7 separate regions of the Homo sapiens genome follow, and regions 1, 2, 4, 5, 6 and 7 are each linked to region 3. The links come from fine-mapping of genetic effects on gene expression. A gene starts in region 3. Each other region holds a variant in brackets. All regions are shown on one strand. Distances are from middle to middle.

What was found.
Region 1: its variant is fine-mapped to the expression of PRKCH in whole blood (TOPMed, PIP above 0.99).
Region 2: its variant is fine-mapped to the expression of PRKCH in monocytes after R848 (Quach 2016, PIP 0.95).
Region 4: its variant is fine-mapped to the expression of PRKCH in whole blood (TOPMed, PIP above 0.99).
Region 5: its variant is fine-mapped to the expression of PRKCH in whole blood (INTERVAL, PIP 0.94).
Region 6: its variant is fine-mapped to the expression of PRKCH in whole blood (INTERVAL, PIP above 0.99).
Region 7: its variant is fine-mapped to the expression of PRKCH in whole blood (TOPMed, PIP above 0.99).

What each region holds. Positions count from the first base shown.
Region 1 is chr14:61,389,248-61,393,314 of GRCh38, reverse strand. PRKCH (protein kinase C eta) reads right to left here. Exons shown (of 14, transcript NM_006255.5): 2 at 2,027-2,090. Among named protein-coding and RNA genes, the nearest start is that of PRKCH-AS1, 68 kb to the right of the region's middle. The variant G/A (reference allele first, on the strand shown) is at 2,279.
Region 2 is chr14:61,341,833-61,345,899 of GRCh38, reverse strand. All of the region lies in intron 1 of PRKCH (protein kinase C eta), which reads right to left. Among named protein-coding and RNA genes, the nearest start is that of PRKCH-AS1, 21 kb to the right of the region's middle. RefSeq lists a silencer at 3,122-3,251 and an enhancer at 3,811-3,870. The variant T/C (reference allele first, on the strand shown) is at 1,638.
Region 3 is chr14:61,319,258-61,323,324 of GRCh38, reverse strand. It overlaps PRKCH (protein kinase C eta), which reads right to left and starts at 1,746. Exons shown (of 14, transcript NM_006255.5): 1 at 861-1,746. The coding sequence starts at 1,223. PRKCH-AS1 (PRKCH antisense RNA 1) reads left to right here and starts at 507. Exons shown (of 5, transcript NR_186042.1): 1 at 507-790. RefSeq lists enhancers at 314-857, 858-1,402 and silencers at 1,364-1,533, 1,684-1,953.
Region 4 is chr14:61,401,546-61,405,612 of GRCh38, reverse strand. The region is part of intron 2 of PRKCH (protein kinase C eta); the gene reads right to left. Among named protein-coding and RNA genes, the nearest start is that of PRKCH-AS1, 81 kb to the right of the region's middle. The variant C/T (reference allele first, on the strand shown) is at 2,134.
Region 5 is chr14:61,523,584-61,527,650 of GRCh38, reverse strand. The region is part of intron 10 of PRKCH (protein kinase C eta); the gene reads right to left. Among named protein-coding and RNA genes, the nearest start is that of PRKCH-AS2, 20 kb to the left of the region's middle. RefSeq lists an enhancer at 2,134-2,283. The variant A/G (reference allele first, on the strand shown) is at 2,535.
Region 6 is chr14:61,450,422-61,454,488 of GRCh38, reverse strand. PRKCH (protein kinase C eta) reads right to left here. Exons shown (of 14, transcript NM_006255.5): 6 at 3,518-3,647; 7 at 1,136-1,263. Among named protein-coding and RNA genes, the nearest start is that of PRKCH-AS2, 93 kb to the left of the region's middle. The variant C/T (reference allele first, on the strand shown) is at 1,713.
Region 7 is chr14:61,471,798-61,475,864 of GRCh38, reverse strand. The region is part of intron 9 of PRKCH (protein kinase C eta); the gene reads right to left. Among named protein-coding and RNA genes, the nearest start is that of PRKCH-AS2, 72 kb to the left of the region's middle. The variant C/A (reference allele first, on the strand shown) is at 1,642.

The DNA.
Region 1 (4,067 bases), 70 kb before region 3:
TACAGCAGGATTTTGTCTGGAAATATATAAGCTGACTCTAAAACTGATATCAAATTGCAAAATACTGAGAATAGCTAAAATAACCTTAAACATACAAAAAAGAACGGAGTTGGAGGGCTCATACTATGTAACCATAAGACTCACTATAAAGCAACAGTAATGAGACAGTGTAATACTGGCATAATGTAGAGAAAAGAAAGAGAGATCAGATGGACAAACAGATCAACAGGACAGAACAGATAATCCAGAAACAGACCCACATTATATGGTCAATTGATTTTCAACAAAGGTTCCAGGGTGATTCAAGGGGCCAGGGGAGACTTTTAATAAATGGTGCTAGAACAACTGCATTCGTGTATTGAAAAAAAATGTTTCAACTCCTCTGTAACATCACACACAAATATCAATTTAAGAAGGCATACAGACCTAAACATAAAACCTAAAACTATTTGCTTCTTAAAAAAAAAAAACAAAAAAAGAAACAGGAGAATATCTTAGTGATCCTATGACAGAGAGATCTCTGAAGACATAAAACATATGAACTACAAAAGATGAGATTAACAAATTGAACTTCATAGAAATTTAAAACTTTTGCTCAAAGACACCATTAAGAAAATGAAAAGGCAAGCCACAGACTGGGAAAAAGTAATCACAATACCTATTTCTCACAAAGGACTCATATCCAGAAAACAAAGAACTCCTCTAAATCAATAATAGAAAGACAAATCCAATTTTAGAAAACAGGACAAAAGACTGGAACTGGAAATTATCAAATAAACAAACAAATGACCAATAAGCATGTGAGAAAGTACTCACCATCAGGGAAATGCAAATTTACCCACAGGATATAATTTCATACCCACTAGAATGTCTACGATGAAAAGCAATGGCCATAGAAAGTGTTAATGAGGATATGAAGTAATTGGAACTCTCATGCATTGCTGGTGGGAGTATAATAAAACCACTTTGGAAACCATCTGGAAGTTTCTTCTGAAGTTACACACACACCTACTTTATTACCCAGCAATTCCACTCCTATATAATTATCCAAGATAAATGAAAGTGTTATGTCCAGAAAAATTTATGTGTAAGAAGGTTAATAAAAGCATTATTCATAATAGACAACAATAGGAAAAACCCCAAAAGTCCACCAAGAGGAGAATGGGTAAACAAATGGATGCTACATTTATATAATGGGATACTACTACTCAGAAATAAAATGAAAAAAATACTGATATACACAATGATATGAATCTTCTAAAAACTATGCTGAGTGAAAGAAACCAGACATAAAAGAGAATATACTGTATAATTCCATGTATATGAACTTCTAGGGTAGGTAAAACTAACCTGTGGTGAAATAAAGCACTTTACTTATTGCCTCTGGGAGCAGGGGATTGAAAAAGGGTACAGGGAAATGTTCACAATAATGGAAATGTCCTGTATCTTGGATTGGGGTGCTGGTTATGCAGTTGTATGCATTTGTCAAAATTCAAATTGTTCACTTCTGATCTATCATTTCACCCCCATATAAATTTTACCTCAAGTAAAAAAAATATTGGATGGGGGAGTAGGGAGTACGGTAGCCACAGATGAAGAACAGAATCCCTTACAGGTCACAAATGAGATAGAGATTATAAAGAAGATAACTGGATCCCTAAATTTCTTTCATAGACATTCACAGGCAAACTAAAAGATGGCACAAAACCAAAGACGTAGAGTTCCACAGTCATGAACCAAAAAGACGCAAAAACCATTCAGCTACGATGACACTGGCTAAAAACAAAAACTCATTGAGTGTGTTAAATGAAACGTGAGATTGCCAGATTTAGCAAATATATTTAATTTGGCAACCTGAACCAATAGACCACTGGGCAACAAAATACTAGCCAGCCCAACTTATGAAAGTGATTTTTTAAGCATCTCTTACAACATGCTCTTTTTTATAATGTCCATGATAGAAATTCCTACTGAGTGTAAACCAAGATTACATGTATTCTGGAAACTACCCAAAACTCATTCTTACCTTCAGTGAAACTCCCGGTAAGGGTTATTACCACAAATACTTTCCCCTCTGGCTCGAGATCCACCTACAAAGAGAAAAAAAAATGTATATTATATGTTAGTTTTAAAATATTTTTGTGGGCCTTAAACAATTCATCACAGAGAGGCCTAATGTGTAAATCACAGCCACAAATCAAATAAATCTAAGTCTTTCATTAAATAGTAGAGTGGCAGGGAAACAAGTGAAAGCTCAAAAAACTGTAAAGACTGAAAA[G/A]AAACCACATTTTATCAGTTTCCTTCCTCTTGAATTTTATTCTCTCCCATTTTTGGCTTGTCATAATATAGACAGGCACATCCACATACTTGGTAATTGTTTTTGAGACCTCCATATCTTATGCATATGGCTTATAAGAGCAGCATTTTACTAAACCACATGGCAAGAATATGAAATAGAGAAATAACGGCAACATACAAGGTAATGAACACATGTGGCTTGGTCAACTGCAAATCTTTAGTTTTATGGAGTAAAAAGTATAAAGAGTCTCTGCTACATATTTCCACCAAAGTCTGGTCAATCTTAAGGAAGCACTAGGGAAGGAAGTTTAGGAGCCTTGCATTCACTACTCTTTTTTTTTTGAGAGAGAGAGGTAGTTTCACTTTGTTGCCCAGGCTGGAGTGCAGTGGCATGATCTCAGCTCACTGCAACCTCCATCTCCTAGGTTCAAGCAATTCTGCCTCAGTCTCCTGAGTAGCTGGGATTACAGGCGTGTGCCACCACATCTGATCTGTTTTTGTATTTTTTAGTAGAGATGGGGTTTCACCATGTTGGCCAGGCTGGTCTCGAACTCCTGACTTCAAATGATCCTCCCGCCTCAGCCTCCCAAAGTGCTGGGATTACAGGCGTGAGACACTGTGTCGGACTGCTACTCTTAATTAGTCACGGGAGTATCAACATACCTTGAAGTTACCTATCAGCTGAAATATCAAGACATGCATTCTGCAAGCAATGCAGCTTGAAGTCTTTTCATATGGTGTCGTCCTCTGCATATAGTCCAGTTTCCGAAAGACCCCATACAGCATGGCGCCCAGGATGAACAGCACCTCTGGCTCTGTTCTGATCACCACTAGCTTAGGTGGGCGGACTCCCCTCTTCCTACCGGATGCTAACTTCACTATCCATGAACACCTCTAAGCCTTGCATTGTGAGGCTCTTGTGGACTCAAATACATGAATTTACAATTGTCCTTAAATAAATCTTTTCAGATTCTGCCCATGGCTCCATTTTTATTTTATTTTTCTCTTTCTTTGGCTGTGGCTCCATTTCTGCCTTTGACCTTTCATCTGAAGAGGAAGACTGGCATATAGAGAAGTTTCACTAGAGATACGAATGACCATTTTTGGTCAAATATTAAATTTAAAATAAGCTGCAAATAGTCACATGGTACAGTGGAAAGAGCCCCCCTACTAGACCAGGCCAAGAACTCTAGTCTGATTCTGTCACAGCTGGTTCTGGACCCTGGGCAAGGTCCTTTACCACACTGAGCCTCACTCTTCCAATCTGAAAAGTCTATGGCATCATTATTTAGCATTTTTTCTCTTTTTTTTTTTTTTTGAGACAGGGTCTCACTGTCTCCCAGGCTGGAGTGCAGTGGCACAATCATAGCTCACTGCAGCCTTGAACTCCCAGCCTCAAGCGATTCTCCTGCCTCAGCCTCCCAAGTAGCTAGGACTATAGGCATGTGCCACCATAACCAGCTTGCCTGCTTATCTAGGTATGTATGTATGTATGTAGAGACAAGGTCTCACTATGTTGCCCAGTCTCAAACTCTTAGGCTCAAGCAATCCTCCCACCTCAGCCTCTCAAGTCACTGGGATTACAAGTGTGAGTCACTGTGCCTGGCATTGGCCTAGCGTTTCTAACACAGCCTCCACATATGATCTCAAAGATTTTTTTTTTTTTTAAGACAGAGTCTCCCTCTGTCACCCAGGCTGGACTTCAATGCTGCAATCATGACTCACTGTAGCCTCGACCACCTGGGTTCAAGTGATTTTCCTGCCTCAGC
Region 2 (4,067 bases), 23 kb before region 3:
CTCCACAACTTTAAAAAAAAAAAAAGAGAGACAGGGTCTTGCTATGTTGTCCAGGCTGGTCTCAAACTCCTGGGCTCAAGCAATCCTCCTGCCTTGGCCTCCCAAAGTGCTGGGCCACCGTGCCCAGCCTTCACCACTTATTTGGGGCAAGTATCTTAACCTCTCTGAGCCTCAGTTGCCTCCCAAAGAGGAGGATAATAAGAGAATCTGAATATCTTGAAGGTATTCTGAGGATTAAATTAGTTAATGCACATGAAATACTTAGCCTGACACCTAATTAATCCTTATTGTGTATCTCCTATTATTGTATATTATCCCACTTGCTACTCTATTCATCACTCCTCTGCTCGCCTTCCCTGCTCCAACACTGCAGCAGAATTTAAGAGAGAAGGAACAAGTTAATGCACAGTTCACAGCTATTTCAGCCATCATGAAATTACTGCTGTGGCTGTCAGCCTTGCCTCCATATACAAATGTTGAAAGTTAAAGCCTCTGGATGGAGAAAAAATACAATTTTGTGGTAGTTGTTTTGTTTTCTATTGCTGCATAACAACGTATACTCTTTTCACTTGAAGTCTAAAACCTACATAGTCTGGAAAACTAAGTACGTTTATAACCATGAAGAGGCTGACAAAAGACTTCACAACAATCTATTCTTTCTACCCTCAAAGGGACCACAGTGACAGAAGATCCTGGTAAGACACTGTCCTCCCAGAAAGTGCTTGCTAGAAAAGGGTTTGAGAAGGGAGAGCCATTTATATGTAAATATCTTAGACTTGTTACCCCTAAAAATAGTGGAAAGAGGGAAATAATTTGTTAAGAAATATACCAGAAAAGGGAACTGAGGGTGAATGAGTATACAGCCTAGTACTGTGACAGGAACAGAAAGAAGCCCTCTTGGCCAGCCTAATGATAAGGTCATTCTCCCAAAGTAGAAACTGGAAAACTAGCATGTGAAGCAGGGCACGCTCAAGACTAGCCTCAATCAATCAACTGGGGGGTTCAGGGTGGCCACCGGGCTAAAAATAAATAAATCTTTTGTTCCAGATGACCTTTAAGGTTCTTCAAGCTTTAAGGGGCTAGCAATCTGGATCTGGTGAAAACAGGTCACATAGGCAGGCGGGAGGAACTTCTAGAAATAGCACACAAACAGCCATCACCCAAGCAAAGATCAGCAGGGTCAGGATTCATCAGTGCAAGGGACCACTCTGCCACTCTCAGTCACAGGCAACCCCGCTGACTACAGACCCAAGTGTCACCCGAGGCGTACCTGCAGCTGCTGGATTGATCGTCCCACAGCTGGCTCCAGAGGCCTTAAAAGAACAGGTCTGGTCACAAGGCAACCATCCAGCACTCTCCACTACCTTGCTTGTGGCTCTTTTCCTCTCAAGTAAGTTACTGAGACACATTAGGCACTTCATTCAACAAATCACAAAAAAAGATTAAATTTTGCCCCCCAAATCCCTGTTTGCAGCTGCCATACCTGGCACTCAACAGTTTATTTTCATGGAAACACCTGGCACACAATGGAACCCCCCAGCCTGCCTCCGTTCGTACCACAGGACACTTCTGTACTAGTGTGGCTGGGAAATGCCAGTCACTGTCTAACTTAACTCCTCACCCTACTTCCTCAGTGG[T/C]GCCAGGCATTTTACATTTATTTTCCTTTCTTCTTACGCATCCAGTAAGCAGCAACTCTGGCGGCAGAAGTGCATATGACATCAGAATTCTCAGAGCTAAGGGAACTTGCAGAGATCATTGGACTCATCACTGACCTGAAACCATGCTAAACCTCTTCTTTCCCAAGCACACAAGCAAGCTGTGTCCCTCAAATGACAAGCTCCATGGTGTTCTGATGATATACTGATATCATTTCAGTATGATGAGGGAGATTACTGGAAGTTTCACCATCGAGGAAGTCATCGTCCAAAAGAGCCACCATTATAAAATACAGGCCTTGTGCAGCATAAACATGAAATTCTGGAGGCACAGAGCTGAAGAACTGACTGTCAGGATCCCGGACCAGGGAAAAGGCAAAGAAGTCAGGCTGTACTTCCACATAGAAGATTCAAACCTGGAAAACATTTGTTCTAAATAATCCAGATCCATTTCCTGGTGCCAAATGTAATTCCTCATTTCAGTCTAACAAAGTTATGGACAAAACTCTTCTGAAATGTCTTTGTACTTAAAATTTTTAAGCCAATTTTACTCTTTCACAGTGTGTCACAGGATGTTGTGCAATCAATTATTACTCAAAATATTACTTGATTACAAAAAGGCCAGGTCTTGCATTGGCACATTAGATATATATTTTTTATGTTTAAAAGTGCTACATAAAAAAAAATCTATCATCGTGCCCTGCATTCTCTAGTCCTGGTTCTATCACAGCTCCAGAACAACTGGAAATATCACCAATGAAGTTGAAGACCCTCATTTCCTTAGAGTCCAGTCCTTTTATAGTTCCATAAGAGAAATCATCAGCCTCAACATGTAAGTCTTTTCTATCCAGTCTAGTGTCTGTTTTTCCTTTTTTTTTTTTTTTTTTTTTTTTGAGGGAACTGGTCATTATTTCTCTAAAGGGACATTCTTTAGGAAAATCTCTTCCTTGGGTTATAACTATTTCAGATTCATTAATTTCTTAACTGAAGTTACATTAAGCCCATTCTCCAGACAGGACACTAGCCTCCAAGCCAGTCCTTTGATTTATCAGTTCCAAAACTAGATGACTCAGGCAACTGCTATACTGGAAACGCCAATCAGGCCTTGAAAGTCAAGTCCAGTTAAGTAGCGATTATATTCCAGCCCACCCTGTCAGCAGTCAGATAAAAGTAAAGGCAAGAAGTCTGTGTGAGACGAATTGGTAAAACCACCTCTTTCAGAACAATATCGGATCCATGGAGAAACTGAAAGAGACAGAACTGCCTTCTCCAGAGATGACACTTCCTTGGCTATCTTGAGAATGAGGCGACACAGTTCTCAAACCCTAACAGCAGCTTCTACATGGCATTGTCTAATGTTAGCCGGTAGAGAGAAACACTAAGGGCAATCTTTTTGGCTGCTGGTCTTCAACAGATCATTTAAGACACCCCACTGTCATTTCTCATGTGGTAGTCAGTGAGCCTGGTTTTAAGATACCAAGGTAGACCAGAACACACTGGAAAATTTGCAGCAAGAGATGTTAAGATCTGTTGCATTTTCAGTGAGGGCTGAAACACCTCCGCCCTGTGGGTTCTGCTGCATAGCCACAACAGTGACACTGGCAAAGGGCAGAGTTCCTGTGGAAACACTTACAGTGCAAACCCGCTGGTGGAAATGGGTCTCTGAAAAAACAAAGGCTTCACACCCATAGAACATAGTGATGAAGCCCAGTGGAATGGCAGGTTTAAGCCGACAATTCAGTGTCCGAACCAAGTCAATCATTAGCTTCACATATATGCAGATAAAAATCCATAATTAATTAAAGGATAAAGCCTACAGAGATGACATATTCTAGGATTTTTCAAATCTTTAAGCAGCTGCTCACTGACTAACTCACAATCCAAGGCACCTCTCCAAGCCTTTTCTGCAGCCAGGAAAAGACAAACCAAGATAATCTACATTTATATGAGTTAGGTTGATCATATTATATGCTAATAAATGAGTTAGCTCCACCTTCACCATCTTCTGCTTGAATTTAATTAGTAGTTGAGGCTTTAAAAGGGCGCTCCCTTCCCCTCCAAATGAGTTTGGCACTCCTGTTCAGAACACAGAGTTGGCCACGTAGGAAAGGCTCTGCCCTTCCCATGAGACAGCCCAGTTACACTGCAGAGGCTGGTCACCAGGCTTAGGACCTCACAAGGTCAGCCCCATGCAAGTCTCAACTGTCACAACTATCTTCACCACCTTCAGGGGGAGGAGGAGAACCCTTTCTCATGCCTCACCTCAAGGCATCCAATTCAACCAACATTTACTCAGCACCTACCAGGGGCCATGCACTGGCAATACAACGGGAACCAAGACAAAGCCTCTGAACTCATGAAGAAAGTTCCTACCAATGGGATAAATCTGGCACAGTTTGCTTTTAAAAAGCA
Region 3 (4,067 bases):
GCACCGTGTAGAGCGCTCTAGAAGTTTTAATTGATTTACAGCAGAAATTATGCCTCCTGGGAACTATGTGAAAAGCAGAGGCAAGGGGAGAGCTGCGGGTAGCTACACGTCAATACCCAGGAACACAGGCTGGTGATGGGGGGAGGGAAGACAGTTAACAACCTCCTGAGGAGTCCTTACAGCCTCTTCTCAGACCCATAGCAGCAGAAACCCACACTGCAGGACTCCCACCTCGGACTGACTAAGTTACTTGCAAGTATATGTAAATCTCATCTCCTTGGAAAAATGCTAAATAATAAAACTGCCAACGTGCAGACCCAGGCGCTCATTTCCCTGCCAGTGTAGCTCATGTACCTCTGGGATGTGCAAGCCGAAACACGTGTGCACGTCTGAGCGGCTGAACCAACATGTATCCATAAACATTATGAATAATACTCGCGAGAATGTACGGCTTTCTCCTAAGTAGCGCTTGAAGCACTTTACCCAAATCAAGTCCCTTTTGTATCACTCCTTCCCTGCCTTTCCTACCTATCACTCTCGTGCTGAAAGTTGGAGCTCCTTACCCAAAGACTGGGCGGAAAGGGTGACCGCCCTGGACCCCTGCCCGACTTCCCGTTAGGCCAAGCCGCTGTCCTGAAAGGGGATCGTGTCCAGGCCGGCTTCCTGGAGACACACCTGCGCCTGCACACACCCACCGCGGTCGCGTCACCAGTGCCGCGGCCACGTGGACGAAGACCAAAGTCTGGAGGGAATTCCCTCAGCCACAAAGCGATGGGAAAGCGGGACCCGGGTGAGTTTTGAAAAACATAAGGGGAACGGGGGTTGGGTGGACACAAAGGGAAGGGGTCACCGCTACTCACCCAACCCTCGAAGGTGTCCGAGGCGCCGGTCGTGCGCAGCAGCTCCTGGAACTGCAGGGTGCAGTTGGCCACGAAGTGGTCGTAGCCCAGGGGCGTCTCGTGGAAGACGGCCAACTCGAGGTGGCCGCCGTCGGTGACGTTAGCGCAAAACTCCTCGTTGTACGTGGGTTTGTTGGTCTTCTGCTTGGTGCTGGTCTGGCCCACGCGCACCTGGTCCACGCTCACCGTCAGATAGGGGTCCAGCAGCTGGTGGCCCTTCTTGAAGAGCGAGTGGCGCAGGGACCAGCGGGTGGGCTGCAGCCCCACTGCCTCACCGATGCGGACCCTCAAATAGCCATTGAACTTCATGGTGCCAGACGACATGCCGGCGCCGCTGCCCCGGCCCCGGGGGGCCGCGCTGCTTCGCAGCGGGAGAACCGGGAGTCCCGTCTCAGGCCAGCCCTCGGGACAGGTGCAGGAGTCGAGGCAGCCCTGGGGAAAGGCAGCGCCTAAGCGCCCCTCGACTGGCCATTCTGCCTCCTCCGTGGGACTTTTCCCTCCCCTCCTTCCCTCCCTCCCGAGGTGGAAAGGAGGGGAGCCCGCCGCCGAGCCCTCAGCGGGCCGGGGAAGCCCGACCGTCCCTTCCAAGCGCGCGGCGCCTCCCGGGGACTCGCGCAGGACTCGCCCCTTCTCCAGGGCCGGGCAGCTCCTCTCCCTGGAGAGCCGGACCTACCCGTCCGGTGAGCCCCAGCCCCAAGCGTCTCTTCCCCCGCCTCCTCTTGCTTCTCCTCCTGCCCCCGCCTCCGAAGGCTCACGCTCTCCCCCACTCGGCGAGCTTCAAACCAGGAAGCAGCTGCCGCCGCCGCATCCCCGGCGAGAACCTCGCACCGCCAGGTTCCAAGTTCACAGAACCCCCGCGTCCGCTCCCGCGCCTTCCGGACCCCAGGGGCGTGGCCCGCGGTCCGCGGCCCGGCCCTGCGGTGGGTGGATCCCCGCGCAAGCCCCCGGGAGGCCAGTGCCCGCTTGCGCCGCCCTGCGCGCCCTCCTTGTAGCGCTGGGTCTGGCCGTGCGCTGCGGGTTAGGGGCCACCCCGGGCGCAGGCCAAAAAGGAAAGGGTTCGTGGCCCAGCCCGAGCAAACACCTGAGGCGTGGTAGACTGACCTGGGGAGCGATGGAAGGTTGGGAGGACGCAGAGGAGGGCGCTCCAGCCAGGAACCCGCGCGGCGAGGAGTCGCCCGCCCCCTCTCTCCCAACCTCCCCGGTGGGCTGGTGACCCTGCAGGGCCATCCCCAAGAGGCCCTGGCCGGAGGCGGGGGCACGGCGGGGAGGTTCTTTTTCCTAATATTTACAGGGATGGCTCATCCCGGGGTCAGCTCGAACGCATCCTGTTTGTGCGCCTTTCCTGCAGAGGCTAATTACACAGTTGTGTGTATGTGTGTGTTTTAATAGGGCAGTAGTAATGATGGAAATCCTGTTCGCCTCCTTCCTCGGAAGGTGTGTCTTGTTGCACATAGAGCAGGAAAGGTCGGTTCTTCTGGAGACAGACATGGCCAAGAGGTAATAAGTCTCTTCCTCTGCGGGTGGTTTCTGGTCCACCCAGCTCTGCGCGGCAAGGGCAGAAAATGTTCACACACACAGGCTGTCCCCAACACACACGCGGAAGAAATTGCCTCTTCTAGGAACACTCCAGCTTGTTGTATTTGCAGTCAGAGTGGGCAGCCTTCTGATGCTTCCCACCCCGTGGTCCCTGCAGATTTTGTCTCCGGGGAGGACCTTTTAGCCTACGCTGCTATGCCGCAAAGCTTGCTCCCTGAGGGCCAGCCACAACCAATTTGTTCCCCAAAAAGCCTAGGCCACTTTTTGTTGTTGTTGTTGTTGTTGTTTTTGAGACGGAGTTTCGCTTTTGTTGCCCAGGCTGGAGTGCAATGGCGCCATCTCGGCTCACCGCAACCTCCGCCTCCCAGGTTCGAGCGATTCACCTGCCCCAGCCTCCCGAGTAGCTGGAATTACAGGCATGCGCCACCACGCCCGGCTAATTTTGTATTTTTAGTAGAGACAGGGTTTCTCCATGTTGGTCAGGCTGGTCTCAAACTCCCGACCTCAAGTGATTCGCCTGCCTCGGCCTCCCAAAGTGCTGAGATTACAGGCGTGAGCCACAGCACCCAGCCAAGCCTAGGCCACTCTTAAGATACTTGATTACATTCTGTCTTGCTATACTGGTTCCCTCGGAGCAGATTCGGCTTGCTTTCATTCCTTTCTTTCTTCCTTCCCTCCTTTCTTTCTTTTATGTTTTAGAGACTGGGTTTTGCTTTGTCATCCAGGCTGGAATACAGCGGTGTGATCATGGCTTACCATAACCTCCAGCTCCCAGGTTCAAGTGATCTTCCAGCCCCTGCCTCCTAAAGTGTTAAGATTACAGGCATGAGCCCCCGTGCCTGGCCCCAGGTTCATCTTTCTAGCCCCCACTCCTCTAAGGCCCTGTTCAGAACTTTCTAATTGAGTAGGTTCTCAACGATTTCACATGAGTGCAAGGAGGCCTGACCCGTAATAACAGCACTATACAGAATGAAAACAAGTAAGGACAATGGGCCAGGGGGGAAAGGGCCTGTCTTGAAAACACCAAAGCTTCCTTAGAGAACAAGGCAGGGATGCAACGCATCACTCTAATGACATCTTAGCTTTAGGCAGGGCTTGTAAAGCCTGCTCCCAAACGTCCAGGGGGCTCCTGTTTGGCCTTAGTGCTCCAGGGGAAGATGTCGCATCTACCCTGTGGGTCAGCTCTGTCACCCTTTCCTCCAAACAGCTGAACTCTAGCTTTAAGAGCCACTAAAGGATTTGCTCCTGTTGGACTTTGGGGCTAAAAGAAAACAGTCCCCATACAGAATCATGGGGTGTAGACTTTAAATTTTTTTTTAAATTTTAAAAAGAAAACAGTCCCCAAATGGTAGGTGGCCACACAGCTGTCCTGGGACTGGGATATGACGATACCAGACACTCCATCTTCACCCTATCAGTACCTATCAGGATTGGCAATGGTGACAGAGCAGTGGGTCAGACAGCCATGGTGCCTGCCCTCCTGGGGCTTACAGTCCCACAAGGAGGAAAAACAACTAATAGAAGAGGGTGCAGTGAAGGAAAAGCCCACGGTGCCAAGGGGTGATGTATTATAACTGGATGGGTGGTCAGGGAAGGGTTCCTTGAAAAAGCAAATAGCAGAGAGATCAGCTC
Region 4 (4,067 bases), 82 kb before region 3:
TGAGATCAGGAGTTCGAGACCAGCCTGGCCAACATGGTGAAGCCCCATCTCTACTAAAAATACAAAAATTAGCTGGGCGTGGTGCTGCGCGCCTGTAATCCCAGCTACTCAGGAGGCTGAGGCAGCAGAATCGCTTGAACCCGGGAGGTGGAGGTTGCAGTGAGCTGAGATTGCGCCACTGCACTCCAGCCTGGGCGACAAGAGTGAGACTCCGTCTCAAAAAAAAAAAAAAGAGCAGAAGATTCCAGCTGCGCCTAAATTTTCTGACTTTATTTTTGATGAGTGAGGTGCTCAAATAAGAGTAATTTCTTAATAATCCATAACTAGAACTGAATTACAGCTAATTATATTTAGGAGTGCATGGACTTGTTATAGATTTCCAGACAGTCAATTTGAACTTTTAATGCTTATTAAGCTGGGGATTGGCTCCTAATTTGGCTTAGAACAAAAAGAAACCATGAGGGAATTCACAGAACTGGAGAAAGTTGTTATCATGAATTTGGAATGGTTTCCGCATTAGCAAAATACATCAAGTCATAAATAGATGTGATGCTGTGCTCTTCAAGCCCCTAACCAAAGGGGAAAAGACGTGCTCAGTGAGCCAAATGGTAAGCCAGCAGCAAGCATAAGTGAACATCACTTAAGTGACAAGGGTATTCTTGAAGAGGAAAGTGACATTAGCAGGGCACCAAAGTTGTGCCAACAACCATGTGGGCACCTCCCCTGACCTCAAGGCCCAGCTACACTCCTCTCCCTGCTGCAACCCTTACAGTATTTGCACTTCCTGTTCCCCATCCCAATAGACAGACTCAAGGTCCACTCCCTCCCTTTCTTCAGACCTCTGGCTCAAATGATACCTCATCAGAGGGGCCTTCCCTGACCATCTGATTTGAACAAAACAGCATACACATAGGACCCATCTCTGTCCTCTTACTCTGTTTTATTTTCTCCATAGCATGTACCACCTGTGGAGGTACATATTATGTTAACCTTTCTAATTGTTTATGTCTCCACATACACACCAAATTTTGAGTTCTGTGAGAACAAACCAGTGTCATTACTAAGTACATGCATACACACATGCATGAATATATACATCCATTACATAGTTTTCTACATAAATACTCTGTGGGTGGGTGGGTGGGTGGATGGATGGATGGATGGATCCACTAAACCTAAGTGGGGATAACATAAAAGTATTGCTTGACCCAGGACATTTTGTAAACAAATGAAAATTCCTAGAGGAGGCAACTGATTTTCTCCAAAATCCTATGAGAACTAAGTTTCCACTTACAAAATATAAGGTGGTCTCTTACATATACAAAGAATGTATCTGCAACCTCAGGCCACTGTTGTCCATGCCCACACTCCCCATCAACTTCATGCAGTGGGTTATCCACTGCTGACTTGAGACCAGAACACAACTCTCAGCCATCAGGATGAAAGAATGATGCTGAAGACGAGTTTCACGGTAGAAGGGAAGAAGCAGGTCTTCCTACCTACTACCTGTCCACTGACACAGGGTGTTATTAGGGAAAGCTTAGGAAAAGGGTTACCAACACAAGTGGCCTGGAAAACAAACTCTACTGTCTTGTTCATTTGAAACAAAGAGAGCAGAGAGATAAGGGGTTGCTGGAAATAAAATGGAAGTATAATGAAAACAGACACTGGAGCAATTAACTTTTCTATCAAAAAATTAAATCATTCTTGTTTTACCCAAACCTCAGTTCCATAGAGAGAATACCACATCACTATAATTTCAAGGAAAAAACAATAAAGCTTGAAAAAAATTAACAAACGAGTCAGCCTCTGTTTTTCAAGAACCTTGATTAGAAAAGGAGAATGCTAGTCAGTAAGCGAGTGCCATAGAAATGTGTCTCCTGAGGCTCTGTCCATGGATCTTGAGCTGTTTTTGAGGTTCAGCTTTTAGTGCTCACAGCACTGATCACTTGTTCAGAAGTATCGTGACTGCCTTGTTCTGCTCAAATCAAGCAAAGGTTTAGCATGAAGCTATCTGTAACAGGCAGCTCTAAAGTTAGAAACCACCACAGGCTTCTGAGTTGTTTTGGTGTCACTTCCTGACCTTATTTTTATGAGAACAGGCTTATAACAAAAACTGGCTGAAAAAGTACA[C/T]TGCACAGCAGAAATAATCAGAAACAAAAAGAAAGTTTCAAAAAAATGACAATTCTGTCACCTGTATCACCTAACTGTACATATTTTTTTCTGATTATAACATACACAAATATGTGTCAGTTCCTTCTCCCTGTGGTCATTAAAATTTAAAGCACTGGGCTTTTGAAAGAATGTAAGAAAAAAATAACCTAGAAATTGTAAAATTTTTTGGTCCAAGTACCCCTTTGAATGGATTCTACTGATATTTGTCAAATTAGAAATTTAAATGGAGACATTTAAAAATATTTATCATTTATTAAAAACAATAACAATTCCATTACATGTTAGTATACACATTTTAATAAAATATAACTACATTTTCAAACATCCCCCCAAAGATAGAGAGAGTGGCATTATTTTACAATTTGCAAATCTCTTTAATGTCTGACTTAAAAGAAGACAGCTAGTGGGGAGGCGGGAGGGATAGCATTGGGAGATATACCTAATGCTAGAGGATGAGTTAGTGGGTGCAGCGCACCAGCATGGCACATGTATATATATGTAACTAACCTGCACATTGTGCACATGTACCCTAAAACTTAAAGTCTAATAATAATAAATAAAAATAAAATAAATAAATTAATTAATTAATTAAAAAAAAAGACAGCTAGATTCTTTCTTTTTTCTTTTTTTCTTTTTTTTTGAGACAGAGTTTCGCTCTGTCACCAGGCTGGAGTGCAGTGGCACAATATTGGCTCACTGCAACCTCTGACTCCCTGGTTCAAGTGATTCTCCTGCCTCAGCCTCCCGAGTAGCTGGGATTACAGGCACGCACCACCACACCCAGCTAATTTTTTTTTGTATTTTTAGTAGAGACGGGGTTTCACCATGTTGGCCAGGATGGTCTTGATCTCCTGACCTCGTGATCTGCCCGCCTCGGCCTCCCAAAGTGCTGGGATTACAGGCGTGAGCCACTGCGCCCAGCCTGACAGCTAGATTCTCATATCTGCTTCTGTATTCAAGCCACTGTAATGTTGTTCTAGTTGAAGTACATGAATACAGTCCAGCCTCACACAGAGTAATTTAAAAATATAATTTTAATAGATTTTTCAGATAATTGCAGATATTCTTCTTTAATACCACACAAAAGTAAACAAGGCGTAGTTTCTCAAAAGTTGGTTGCAATATAAAACTGTATCAATGAACTTTTCATACTTTAAATTAATATACATGAGTCTACCTTACGCTTTCAAGAGATCCTTGACCCATAAATGATTTTATAACATCTCGTACTGGCCATTGTGAAAATACGTGTTCACTGAATCATTGGAAGTCATCTTCTAAATGTTGACATATCTCATAACACAATTTTTAAAAATTACAATCGTTAATAACAACAAACTCATGAGAAAAGAATAAGTACTGGGAAGTTGTCAAGCTCACAATGGTGGATATAAACTTTCCAAAATTCGAATTATGTTTTGAAGGCTCTAATTTTATCACTGGCACCAAATACTTACAGTTGTTTTCCCTGAAGTAACAGGCGCAGTTCATTCGTTTTTTAGACAATGTCTGAAAAATCTGCCAGTTCCACAGTATGGTTTGTCTGTCATTCTTTCAAAGTAAAAATGGTGTTCCATGCAAAAAGTGGCTAGCTCAGCTAACAACTCAATCACACAAGTGCTTTTCCTTGAGACACAACAGTATTTCAGTATGAAGCAGGAATGCTTTTAGCATATTTCCCATTTTGTCACACAGAATGTTACAAAGGTATATAGTCAAGGATTGACCTTTAATAACATGAATAATGTTTACTGTTCCATCAAAGACATTCTTAAGTGAAACTAGATTTCTTCCTCCTGCAACTACGTGGCCATCAAGAATACAATGATGACTTTATAGTTTGGTGCCATGCTTTTACCCACCATTTCTCTTTTGCACCATTGGGGCAAATG
Region 5 (4,067 bases), 200 kb before region 3:
TTAGGCAAAAGGAACTCATTGATGCTCCCTCATTAAGGGAGTAACAGATTCCTGGCTGGACAAGAAAAGATCAGTTGGGGGAGGCTGAAACCGTCCAGGGAAGAGATGTTAAGACCTGAACCAGGACAGTGATGAATGGAATGGAAAATAAGGAGTTAGTCAGGGGAAAGGAAGCAGGGCTTCGGTGAAAGCAAAATCAGTAATAAGGCTTGATAATCACTTAGAGATAGACGGATAGAGAGAAGCAGCAGAAATGATGACTTCTGGGTTTGTCTTAAATCCAGTAGGTTTGTGGGGATGTTAATCAGGAAAAGGAAAACCAGAGTGAGAACAGGGTTTGTTTGTGGGTACCCCAGGTGCACAAGAAGCCTAGATTATGGAGACTGGTTGAAAGCATTTCCACCCCTCCTCCAATCCCTAAGAGCAAATTCATGTGGAAGGAAGTGAATATTCAGCAGCAGGATTGTTTGGTAAAGAGTCCTCAAGGTCGGCAGGAACATGGCCATGTACTGATAAAGCTGTCTGTAAATAAAAGGCAGTGCTCTCTTAAAAAAACCCGCTTCCCAGCACAAGCACCTGGTTGTCCTGTTGCCACCCATACCCCAGGGCACTGTTACAGAGGGAGGGTGGCATTGCTAGCCTCACAGGCACAGTCTAGACTGGACAGAGCAACAGCTTGGCCTTTTGGGTGAGACATTTACACTTTGGTTTTTAAAGGAACAATATGCTCAGAGGCAACCCACATAGGCTGATCAGTGACAAGGAGGCTGCAGGTCACGGGGGGGATGCTAGGTGGCCTGGAGCTTTGTGGTTAACTGCCATTGTGGGAGGCTGCCATGGCCTTGGGCCGCCTGGAGCCCCCCTCGCTGTGGCGTCTCCTCAGTGGCTGCAGCTGACTGCTCTTTCTGGAGTGCCATATTCACTGTGGGTTGTGTCAGGGCACTCGAGGTTCTATTTTCTTGCCTCAGTGTGAGAATCAAGGTCTGTTGGCCTGCATGGCCCAAGGCAAAAGGTTGGTCTCTGTCCAGCCTGGATCACGTTGCTGGCTTGGAGGAGGTAGGTGATGACAGAACTGGCATGACTGGTTTCCACACGCTGTCCTGTGAGTTGATACAGCCTGGCCATACAGGTCTTACAGAAAATGGCCACTAGAAAATGCCCAGGAATGGAAACCAAGTCTGGTATTCCAGGAATCCCCAATAAGTGTGGTTAAAGCAGCAAAGCTTTCATGGCACAGATCAATGGAACATAGAACAGACTTCTCTGCTCTTAGTAGCAGCCTCCCCGGGTGTCAGGGGCATAAGGCAAAGGCATGCTGAGTACCTGTGCACCCACTTCAGCGAAGCAAGCTTTCTGTGTCTCTAACCCAAACCCAGTCCTGGCTCCAAATCAGCCCTTCTCCACGCAGAATCCCATGTCCCATATAAGTGACTGTTTTCAGTGGGCTGATTTGTGGAAGCTGCTTCCTCCCCTGGCCCCACCACATAAATACAATATGAGCACAGCCAGTTTAACCTACAAAAGGTTGCAATCGTAGCAGCGCAGGACGGGAGCAGGGGTGAGGATGATCGTGGTCCTGCCCAGTGAAGGAGGCCACCACTCTCAGTTCTTCCACAAGTGTTTTCTGACTTGGGAGGCACTATAAGGCCTGGGTGCCTGGCTCCTCTGGGACTGCGGGCACACAGTAGAGAGGCGCCTGGCTGAGGTTAGACACACTAGTCTGCAGCCCCAGGAGAGAGCACGGCCGGGGGGACAAAGCCCATGAGCCCAGCTTTATCGACACTGTGTCCTAGCCTGACAAGCCAGGCCTGTGTGGACCTGAGCCCAGAACACTATCACTCACATTTCCAAACAAGGTCACTGAGTTTCTGAATTTTCCCGAAGCCAGTATGCCTGCTGAAGTCTTGGAAAGGATCTTCTTGGGCAACAGAAACAAGTGCTAACAGAAATCCAAAACGGTCTCAAGCGTTGACCCGCAGTTGCTTAAGAGCTTGTGACTAATGTCCCAGGTAAGAGGTCTGACTGCTTATTACTCAGCTGCTGTCATGGGCAGCAGGAATCGCGCAGGGAGAGAAAGTGCTGGGCCATCAGTTTTGTCAGTCAACTATTACAATCAGCTCTGCATGGGGAAGTCTTGGGACGCAGCTCTCAGAAGACGCAAGTGGGCAAGACAGGGATGTGACTCATCCTGGTCACAGGATGCCCGAGGCCACAAAGGCAGGTTAGACACCTTAATCCTGATTTCAATCTAATTTTAGGCATTCTCAGAACTGTATGAGCTGTAAAGGAAACGCCATGGCTGTTCTCATACCAAGTGCTATTTAATAAGACAGATCGCTCAAACTGGGATCCCAAGAGGGTTCAATTAAGAGCATAATGTAATTCCAGGCTACCAGTGCTGCCCTCAGCCCAAGTATCTCATACCTGCTCTATGAAGTCTGTCCTGATGTCCCCAGACAGTCATAGCAATATCAACTCTGCTCCTAGGGTGCCCAGTTTATACTTCTATGATAGCATACCCCGCACTGTATTCC[A/G]GAAGGCTCTGTCTGTGCACCTGTCTTCCTTCTTAGCAGCTCCAGCATGGTCCTGGCAGGAGGTGCTGACCAAAGGGATAAACAGAAGCATTTCAGATGGACCCCAATGGGACTGCCCTGGCCAACTCAGAGCCTATCTTATTTTTAGGGGATGGAAGGACACTCCATAAACTTTGCTCCAAAGTACTTAAACTTATAAAAAGCCACATGTTTTACCCCTTAAAGATAGACTCAAGAGGGAAAAGAAGAAACCTGAAATCAAAATTTAAATTCTTCTCTTTGATGAAGCTGGAGAAAGAAAGTGGTTTTGAAGGGTCAATTATTAAACAACGAGGACCAAGCAGAACACTTATCCTCATGTTGGCTTGCATCCAAACGGAAGAGCAGAACATGGAGAGGGTGACTCAAACAAAGCCAAAGATTATAGAGCCATTTACAGTCATGGTCAGCTTCCACTCTAAAGGGAAATCATGCCTTTATTTTTTTTAAAGCAAAAGAAGTCACCCTAAGCCTCCTGACTTTAGTTTGAAATATGCAGAGGTCAGTTTTTGGCTTAGGAGTACCTCAGCTTCCTATGCCAACATGTAACTCAGCAGCTGAACTTAACAAGGCTACACAATGAAGATTACAAGTTCATACAGGGCAGAGGCTCAAATACTAAAATGCCAAAACCACAGTTACCGGCTTGCCATTCATTAGCTCATTGAGCACCGGTATTTAATAGCTACAGCTTTTGTCATGCAAGCATAGAAGGGTAGAAAGAGTTATTCTATCCTCTGTGCTTGTCTGAAAGCTACATTGTTCTTGCTGGGTAATCAGGGTTACTTAAAATGCCCACAGTAGTTTCAGAGAGAATTCCCAAGTGATTGAAGACAAAGGAGATTCAGAAATTGGATTTATTTTGTTTCCACCATAAGCTATCCTGAGAGTAATAAAACAGATTGACATGAGTCTTACTGCTTAGATCACTAGAGTCAGTTACTCTTCCAAAAGAAATAAAGGAAAGCGAGTTGAGAGCTGGCTCCTTGAACAAGAATGAATCTAGGAGGCTATTTATATGAACTATTTTTAACATATTTTTCAACTTTTATTATGGGAAATTTCAAAACAGACAAAAGTAGGGAGAATGACACAACTCCCATACTGATCACACAGCCTCGGCACCTGCCAATGCACGTCCAAACATGCTCCCTCGCTACATCGACTCCCTCCCTCCCTGATCCATCTTTTATCAGATTATTTTGAAACAAATCCAGGATATGAGCTATTTCATCTATACACATTTTAATATCTGAATCTCAAAGATAATAATTCTTTAATAGAGTACAACTTTGATACCCATTATCATAAAATACACAGTCAATTTATGATTGTCAGCATACTGCCATTTGTCTGTTGCTCATTTGGGGGTGGTGAGTCTGTGGGTCTGTCTAGAAAACCTGGAAAAAAGCTTTTGTGAATAACAAGAATAACAGTGTCTTCAGTGGTTAACATATACTGAATGTTCATCAAATGCTAAGTGCTTTATCTATA
Region 6 (4,067 bases), 130 kb before region 3:
CAGACAAAAGCATAACCCAGGATCCTGGGTTTTAGGCTTTCACCAGACCACAGTGACAGGAAGCTGATTTTAAAACAGAAAAGAAAGGCTGGGCGTGGCAGCTCATGCCTGTAATTCCAGCACTTTGGGAAGCCAAGGTGGGCAGATCACTTGAGATCAGAAGTTTGAGACCAGCCTGGCCAACATGGAGAAACTCCGTCTTACTAAAAATACAAAAATCAGCCAGGCGCGGTAGTGGGCACCTGTAATTCCAGCTGCTCGGGAGGCTGAGGCAGGAGAATTGCTTGAACCTGGGAGGTGGAGGTTGCAGTGAGCGAATATCACTGCACTCCAGGCTGGGTGACAAAGCGAGACTCTGTCTCAAAAAACAAATAGAAAAAAGAAAAAAGAAAAAAAAAAGGAAAGAAAGGAAAAAAGTCCTTCTTTTGCTTTCTGTTTATTACTTGTTGCTCATGCTCATTATTTCTTGTCATATAACTGTATATACAATCTTATCCGTGAAACAAATTGCTATTAAAAATGCTATTTCAGCCAGACACAGTGGCTCACACCTGTGCAATCCCAACACTTTGGGAGGCCAAAGCGAGAGGATCGCTTGAGCCCAGGAGTTTGAGACCAGCCTGCGCAACAAAGTGAGACTCCATCTCTACAAAAAAAAAAATAAAAAATTACCCTGACATAGTGGTGCACACCTGCAGTCCCACCTACTTGGGAGACTGAGGTAGGAGGATCACTTGAGCCTAGGCAGTCGAGTCTGCAGAGAACCATAATTGTGCCACTGCACTCCAGCCTGGGTGACAGAGGAAGACCCCATCTCAAAAAGGAATGAAGACAGGGAAGGGGAAGGGGAAGGGGAAGGGAGGAAGGAAGGAAAAAGGAAAGGAGAGGAAAGGAGAGGAGAGAGAGAGAAAAAAAAGGGAGAAAGAGAGAAAGAAAGAAAGGAAGAAAGAAAGAAAGAGAAAGAAAGAAAAGAAAAAAGAAAGAAAGAAAGAGAAAGAAAGAAAGAAAGGCAATAAGTCTGTTTATTGTATTTGCTAAGATTAGGAACTTTGATGAGGCCACATGCTCTCATTTGGGCTCATCACATCTGAGCAACTTCTAAATTACGAGACATGGAAAAAAAGCAAAGTCTCACCGAGGTTGGAGAAATATTTCCGGGTTGGAGACCCATCCCTGCCAGGGTCTTGGCAAGTTCCACCGCATTTACCCCACAGTTAGGGGCCACGTTCGCTTGACATCGAATATGCACATTCATTTTACATACTAGAGGGAAAAGGAAAACAGAATCCATGTTCAGAAAGGAACCAATTCAACATGTGCTGCAACAGAGAACTTTAATAGCCTAAAAGATTATAACAGAGGAATTATACCGGCTGAACAGTATCATTTTCTCATAAAATTAAGCTCACACTAGTAATAGTTCCTGACATTTTATCTATTTCTGTTTTCTGCAGAAGCAGAAAGGCAAGCATACTAAAGAATAATATATTTCAAATACATTTTTTCCACCATGATTTGATGAAACCCATTCATCTAAATCACATGTAACAGGCATTGCTGCCTTAGTATGATCTAAGATTAAAACCTTTATCGTAGCGGCAATTCACAGGCAATTAAATAACAAAGAATCATGTCAACTGTATTTTTTTCTGTCTCTCAACAGTGAAATAAAAGGTAGCAGTTTAAATGCCACATGTAGATCACTGTTCAAA[C/T]AGGATGGAAATGGTGTTTCTACAAGAAAAACCTCTATCTGCAGCTTTCTTTCTGAGTATTGTTGTGGTTGGGCAGGCCTCACAGCACAGAGATGGGCATCCTGTGAGCCTGTGGTTCTCAGCATTTGCAGCCTGTGGTTCTAACTGCTTCATAGTGGGGAAAGGCAACTTTTAAAACTTTCTGAAGGTCAGAGTACAAATGGCAGTTGAAGAGGCGAGCAAAGAAAGCTAAGCTCCTGAGGCACCGGAAGCTGCCTGGGGACAATGAAGGATCTGAGGCGTTATCAGCTGGAATAAATTCTGAGACAGTTTTTTGACATGGGCCCTGCTGATGGGAGGTGAAACTGAAGCGACAAGCAACACATTCCTGTTTTATGGAGTCAGTCCATCTTGGAAGCACACACAGATCCAGGTTTTGTGGGGCCTGAATTTACATAATTTAGGAGGCCTTCTTTAAGAAAAAGAACACCAAATCAAGTAGAGGGCTTTGGAAGGTGCCCTTGAGAGAGAGGAGCCCTGAGACTTAAGCTTCATGGGAAACCCACCCCTCTCAGGAAGACAGGTGTAAGACACACGAGCCTACAGAAGCCTTTCAAAACCACCAAGTGACCATAAAGGCAAAAATCACAAGAGCCGGATTGCTGCAGGTGTGCTACCCTCAGGCCACTAGGGAAGAGGACAATGCAGATGAGCCCCATGCATGGCTCTGCGCATCAGCAACAATGCAAGGCAGAAAGGGATTTCCCACTGGGAACCCATACCCAGGTGAGACCGTCACGCTAAGATCAAGCTGCACCTGGACCAACGCCCTACAAGTTATCCATGAGCTGGCTACTGTTTTGGTTTTATGAGAAAAAAATTATTAGTGTTCTACAGAGATAGAAGAATGTGCCCTTCTTAAAGACAAGTGACTGGCCCCTTTTTGTTGACAGAAGCAGGCTCTGTAAGTCCAAGCAGTCAATGGAAGTTGTCTGGCTATACTCATGCCAATTCTACCTCACCATTGTTCTCCTCAACTGGCGACTTGGGGTGTGTCTGATAAGAAAGGCTTCAGGTGCACCCCACGGCAGTCAGATCATTACATTTCCATACAAGATGGCACAAGGCCAACAGCTCCCTAACTCCTAACAGGACAGGGATCAGCTCTCACCCACTCAGAGCCTTTGCTAGGGCCAAAGCTCCAAACTCTCACTCCACTGGGCACAGCTGGTGAGATGCAAGCTTACAATCAAGGCTTTATCTTCCTTCATTCTACCCCTGTCTCCAATCTCTTTCACAAGACCCAGGGCAGCTCTTTTTATGCTGTGACAACTCCATTCCTGCTGATTTCTGGTGAGATCATCAGATCTATTCTGCCATTTCTTACTCTTAACCCAACCTTCTCATTTGGCCATCTCACCTCCTCACCTCCTCCTAACTTCCATTTCTTTGAAATTTTTATTTATTTTTTTCTTTTTAGTGTCTCACCTGACTCAACCATCTTCCATTTCTGACTAAGATCCCATCTTTTTCTCTTCCAAACACCTATTAAAATACAGTGTCTAGGCTGTATTTGTCAGCTAGCGAGCTAGATCACTGAATATACCATTTGACTTAATGTCCTATGATTAGAAAATGTTGGCATCAGATGAAGTTCTCTTTACATGCCTGACAAGAAACATGTAAGTTTAAAATGACTAAGATGTTGATTTACAACATATCTAAAACCATCAGTTCTAGGACAGATTCTGAGTCCACAGAATTCTGAAAGCTTAGGGCATAGTGTTCCCATGAAGAGGTGGGTACCCAGCACCTCAGCATCTCACTTTTACACTGAAGTCCTTGTCGCATTATTCCCCAGAGCAGTGAGCCACAGTGATCGCAGAATGTTGGCACTTTGTAGTTGTGGATGCTGAACTTGTGTGGGATGTTGATCCCGAACCTCTGTTCTGCAATCTGTAAAAAAGGAAATAAAGGGACAAGAGCTAAAATGTCATACCAATGTCCTTTGTAAAAACTGTAATAGGAGCCCATCAAATGCAAAGTGTCACTATGACACCTGAGCTAGGTATATTATTTTACTGTACTCAGCCCTGATTAATTACTCAGGTCTTACGAACCAGACTAAACACATTTTCTAATGAACAGGACAAGACAGAAATGTGGGAAACACATTAGATCATTTGCCATTTTGAGAAATAAAAATTAAGATTTTCACTTCATCTTTCATATTCAGGCCATATTTCTCTCCTTGCCAATCCCCTAACACCCCCATCTATTTCCCAGAACCTTTTAACTTCAGGATTAAATGGGTCTTTTATACACTATATATACTTGCTATCACTGTAAGTTCTTCCAGACATTGTGTCACGGGAA
Region 7 (4,067 bases), 150 kb before region 3:
AACTGGAGATTTCAGGGCAAATAAGAAGTTTTCAAGGTAATGTTAACTAGATTTAATTTTTCCTTTGTGTCCTAATTATACTTAACATTTTATAGCATGTTTTAAAAACAGAAAGGAAAAAGTAAAAAACATACACTTCTCTTTTCATTTATATTGCATATTATTTCCTGATATAATTAGTCATCAAGACCATGATTTTTTTAACAGTTGCATGCTATTCCCGATGCCAGTTCTATGAAGTCCTACAATTAGCTTGACTTCTAATTAGGTTAATGAAAATAAAAGGACACAGCTTTTATAGTCTCTATGCCATGATAAAGATCATTTTTTTAGCCTGGTAAAGCAGGCATCTCTCAGTGGAGATGATTGCTAACTGGGCACGGTGTTTTAATTGATTGGTCAATCATTTAGACATCACTAACCTTTAGAGCACCCCCTAGTGGTCGAGAAGAACGTTTGAACAAACCTCCTAGTCAAAAACTATCCACATTTGAAATACACTAAAACTTAAGAGTCACAAAGAAGATATCTTGGATGATTATCTACTTTTTAAAAAAGGTTTAGCAACTTAACAAAAGCATCCACAATAGGATTTCTTCAAGTCATTATTTCACATAGTGAAATTCTCTTTATAAAGCTTTTGGTTTAAGCATCAAATAGGATATTTATGGACTTAGTTTGTATAGGGCTTGTAGGATAAAGAGTAAAAATACCATTTCATTTATTTAGATCATTTTTCATGATGGAGATCCCTAAACTGTGTAAACTTTTAAGACAACCACAATTTCATTTCTCCCTCTGATCTATGTATGAATTCGACACTTATGCCATGTGGGAAGATATTTTGGGTTATAGTTGATTAGACACTTTGCCCAGTTAGAGAAGTAGAGACTATGGCCAAGAATATGCCATATCTGCCTCAAGGTGATGCCTGGGAATCTACTGGCTGAGAATTCATTTCCTCTCCCCCTGTCTGCAGTGCTGATGCACGGGCCGAAGTTTCTGTGTGGAATGTGCCTTTCACATGCTATTCTGAGTTTGATTCCTCCACTGTAGCCATGACAAACTCTTCTCTGGTCCTCTGGCTGGGGAACAAAATCTGTTCAAGCAAATGACATGCCCACAATTTCTTCCCAAACTATTAAAAAATTTTTTTAAAATTATACTTTAAGTTCTAGGGTACATGTGCACAACGTGCAGGTTTGTTACATAGGTATATATGTGCCATGTTGGTTTGCTGTACCCATCAACTCGTCATTTACATTAGGTATTTCTCCTAATGCTATCCCTCCCCCAGCCCCCCATCCCCTGCCAGGCCCCAGTGTGTGATGTTTCCCACCCTGTGTCCATGTGTTCAACTCCCACCTATGAGTGAGAACATGCAGTGTTCCCAAACCATTTTTGCAATCTGGGTTACATATTGATCTCCACTGTCAATTAAGGAAGAAAGTTGCAGACCTTACTCTAAAGGTATGGAGGCTAAATTAAAAGAGGTGGAGCTCTAACAGGAAGGGGAACAGTCATCAGAAACAGCTTAAAAGGTTTATATGGGAGAAAGCACATTGTGTTAACTTTGAAGGCAAGCTTCAGTTGGCTAAGTGGAGTTCAGACAGGTTCTTAAAACCCCAAAAATGAGCAGAT[C/A]CTAAGATGGTGACACCAAGAACCTCATGCCGTATCCAATAGAACTCTGAGTCTGTTAGTGAACTGACTTCATCTCAGCACTTGATTTATCCTACTATGAAACCACTTCCTTCTGATTCTTCTTCTTTTTTCCACTCAACCTTAACCCTTACTTAGAATTCCTTCTTCAAGTCTCCTCTCTTCTCTCTCTATAAACATCTACTAAAAGATTTTTGATTTTTTTTTTTTTTAAGACAGAGTCTCGCTCTGTTGCCCAGGCTGGAGTGCAATGGCGTGATCTTGGTTCACTGCAACCTTTGCCTCCCGGGTGCAAGCGATTCTCCCTGCCTCAACCTCCTGAGTAGCTGGGATTACAGGTGCGTGCCACCATGCCCGGCTAATTTTTGTATTTTTAGTAGAGACAGGGTTTTGCCATGTTGGCCAGGCTGGTCTCGAACTCCTGACCTCAGGTGATCCACTCACCTTGGCCTCCCAAAGTGCTGGGATTACAGGTGTGAGCCACTGCACCTGGCCTGAAAGATTTTATATTATAGTTTCCACTTACCAAGAGGACATGGATGACACCAAACTGATCTCCCATCTCAAGTGTGTTTCTGACAAACAAGCATCTTACCACTGAATTTCCCCCAAACCGAACTCATGCTATTCCATTCTCTTTAGGCTTCCAAATGGCCAGAGCCCTGGCCATTCCCACTTAAAAAGTCCTATCATGTCTACTTCTTTAGTGTTTCCTTGACTCCACTCCCATGATTGCTGCCTTGGGGCAGGCAAGTTCCCAGATCACGGGCCCAGCATCCTCACCAGATCTGCTGCCATTAGCCTCCCTCTGTACATAGCAGCCAGAGAGAGCCTTCTAACATGCAAATCTTATGTTACTCCCTCACTTAAAGATTTTGCTGGCTCCTTTTACCTAAACAGTTTAGTCTAAGCTCCTCAGCAAAGGACATCAGACCCATTATGACTTTGCTTCTTCATCACCACCCCCCTACCCCCGCCGCCAACCACCACCATTTCCCTTCTTACAAATCTGCCTCATCTAGTCATTTGGGGTTTCCTGGGCACATCCTGCAATTTTAAGCCTCTGTGCCTTTGCACTGCTGTTACCTCTGTCTGGGAGTCTATGCCCTCCTCTTGTGACTATAAGATCCCTATTCATCTTCAAAACACAGCTCACACAGCCCCTCCTCTGGGAAGTCCTTCCAACCTCCACGAGGATCAATCATGACTTTCTTCTCTCCATCACATGGTGTTATCATGACCTTTGACTGTAAGCAATTAAAAGGCAGGTCCACATTTTGTTCTTGTGTCTTCATCCCTGGCACATAATGCATGCTCCATAAACATTTACAGAATTGAATTTAAAATGCAAGATAAGTACACTAATACCATTCATTATATTACAGAAACAGGTAATGTCTCTTTTGGCTAGGGTCTACTTTCAATATTTAGAGACTATTCAGCCTTAAGATAGCATTTAAGGTTCTACTTTTTGTTTTGTTGTTTTTTTTGTGTGTGGGTTTTTAAAAAATTGAGACAGGAGTCTCACTTTGTCATCCAGGCTGGAATGCAGTGGTGCAGTCCCAGTTCGCTAATGCAGCCTCAACCTCCCGGGCTCAAGCAATCCTCTGGTAAGGTATCCACATTTCAAGTTGAAATGGCATTTCCATGTATGGGAAACAAAAGAAAAAAAGCCAGCAAGTGGCTCTCCCTCAAAGCCCAATCATATTGCTATCAGCACGTTTTCCCATGCTGGTTGGGAAACATTTTGCAAAACTCTGATTATCTGTTTGTACAATCCAACCACATGTACCACACACAGGATGGGAATCTGACTCACAAAGTTCAGGTTTGGGAGGATGCTTTTCATAAAATGCCACTGACTCAATGCCTTGCTGGTAAAGTGAAAGTGTAATTATTAAATGCTAAAACAAGACAAGCTGCAGTATTTGTACTGCTTGCTTTTTAAAAATAACCCATTTTAGATATATGCTCAGTCAGCTAATCTTTTGCTCCCTGGATGCCCCCAGGCTCTGATAATAATGCCTTATCGAGCAGCAGGCTTCACTGTTGAGAGCTGCCAGCAGCATGCCAGCCCTCACTCACATTAAACAGACGCTGCACGCTTCCGCTGTCTCCCCCGAGCTCAGGGGCTCCATCCCTAACAATGCCACTGTCAGTGCAGGCACCAACAGCTGTAATGAGCCCCCAACAGGAACTTTGCCTTTCTACAAACTCAGAAAAAAAATAACGCTTATATTTTCATAAAGAAGGTCTGACACATTTGGCTTTGGCTTCTATAAAAAGAAAAGTGATCGTCTAACCCATTTGACTTTTCATACCAAAGACAATCACCTGACAGTCATGTAAGGGAGCCAGGGGAGATTCTTCCCCCCTGGGAACCAATGTCTGGCGATATGTTTGGTTGT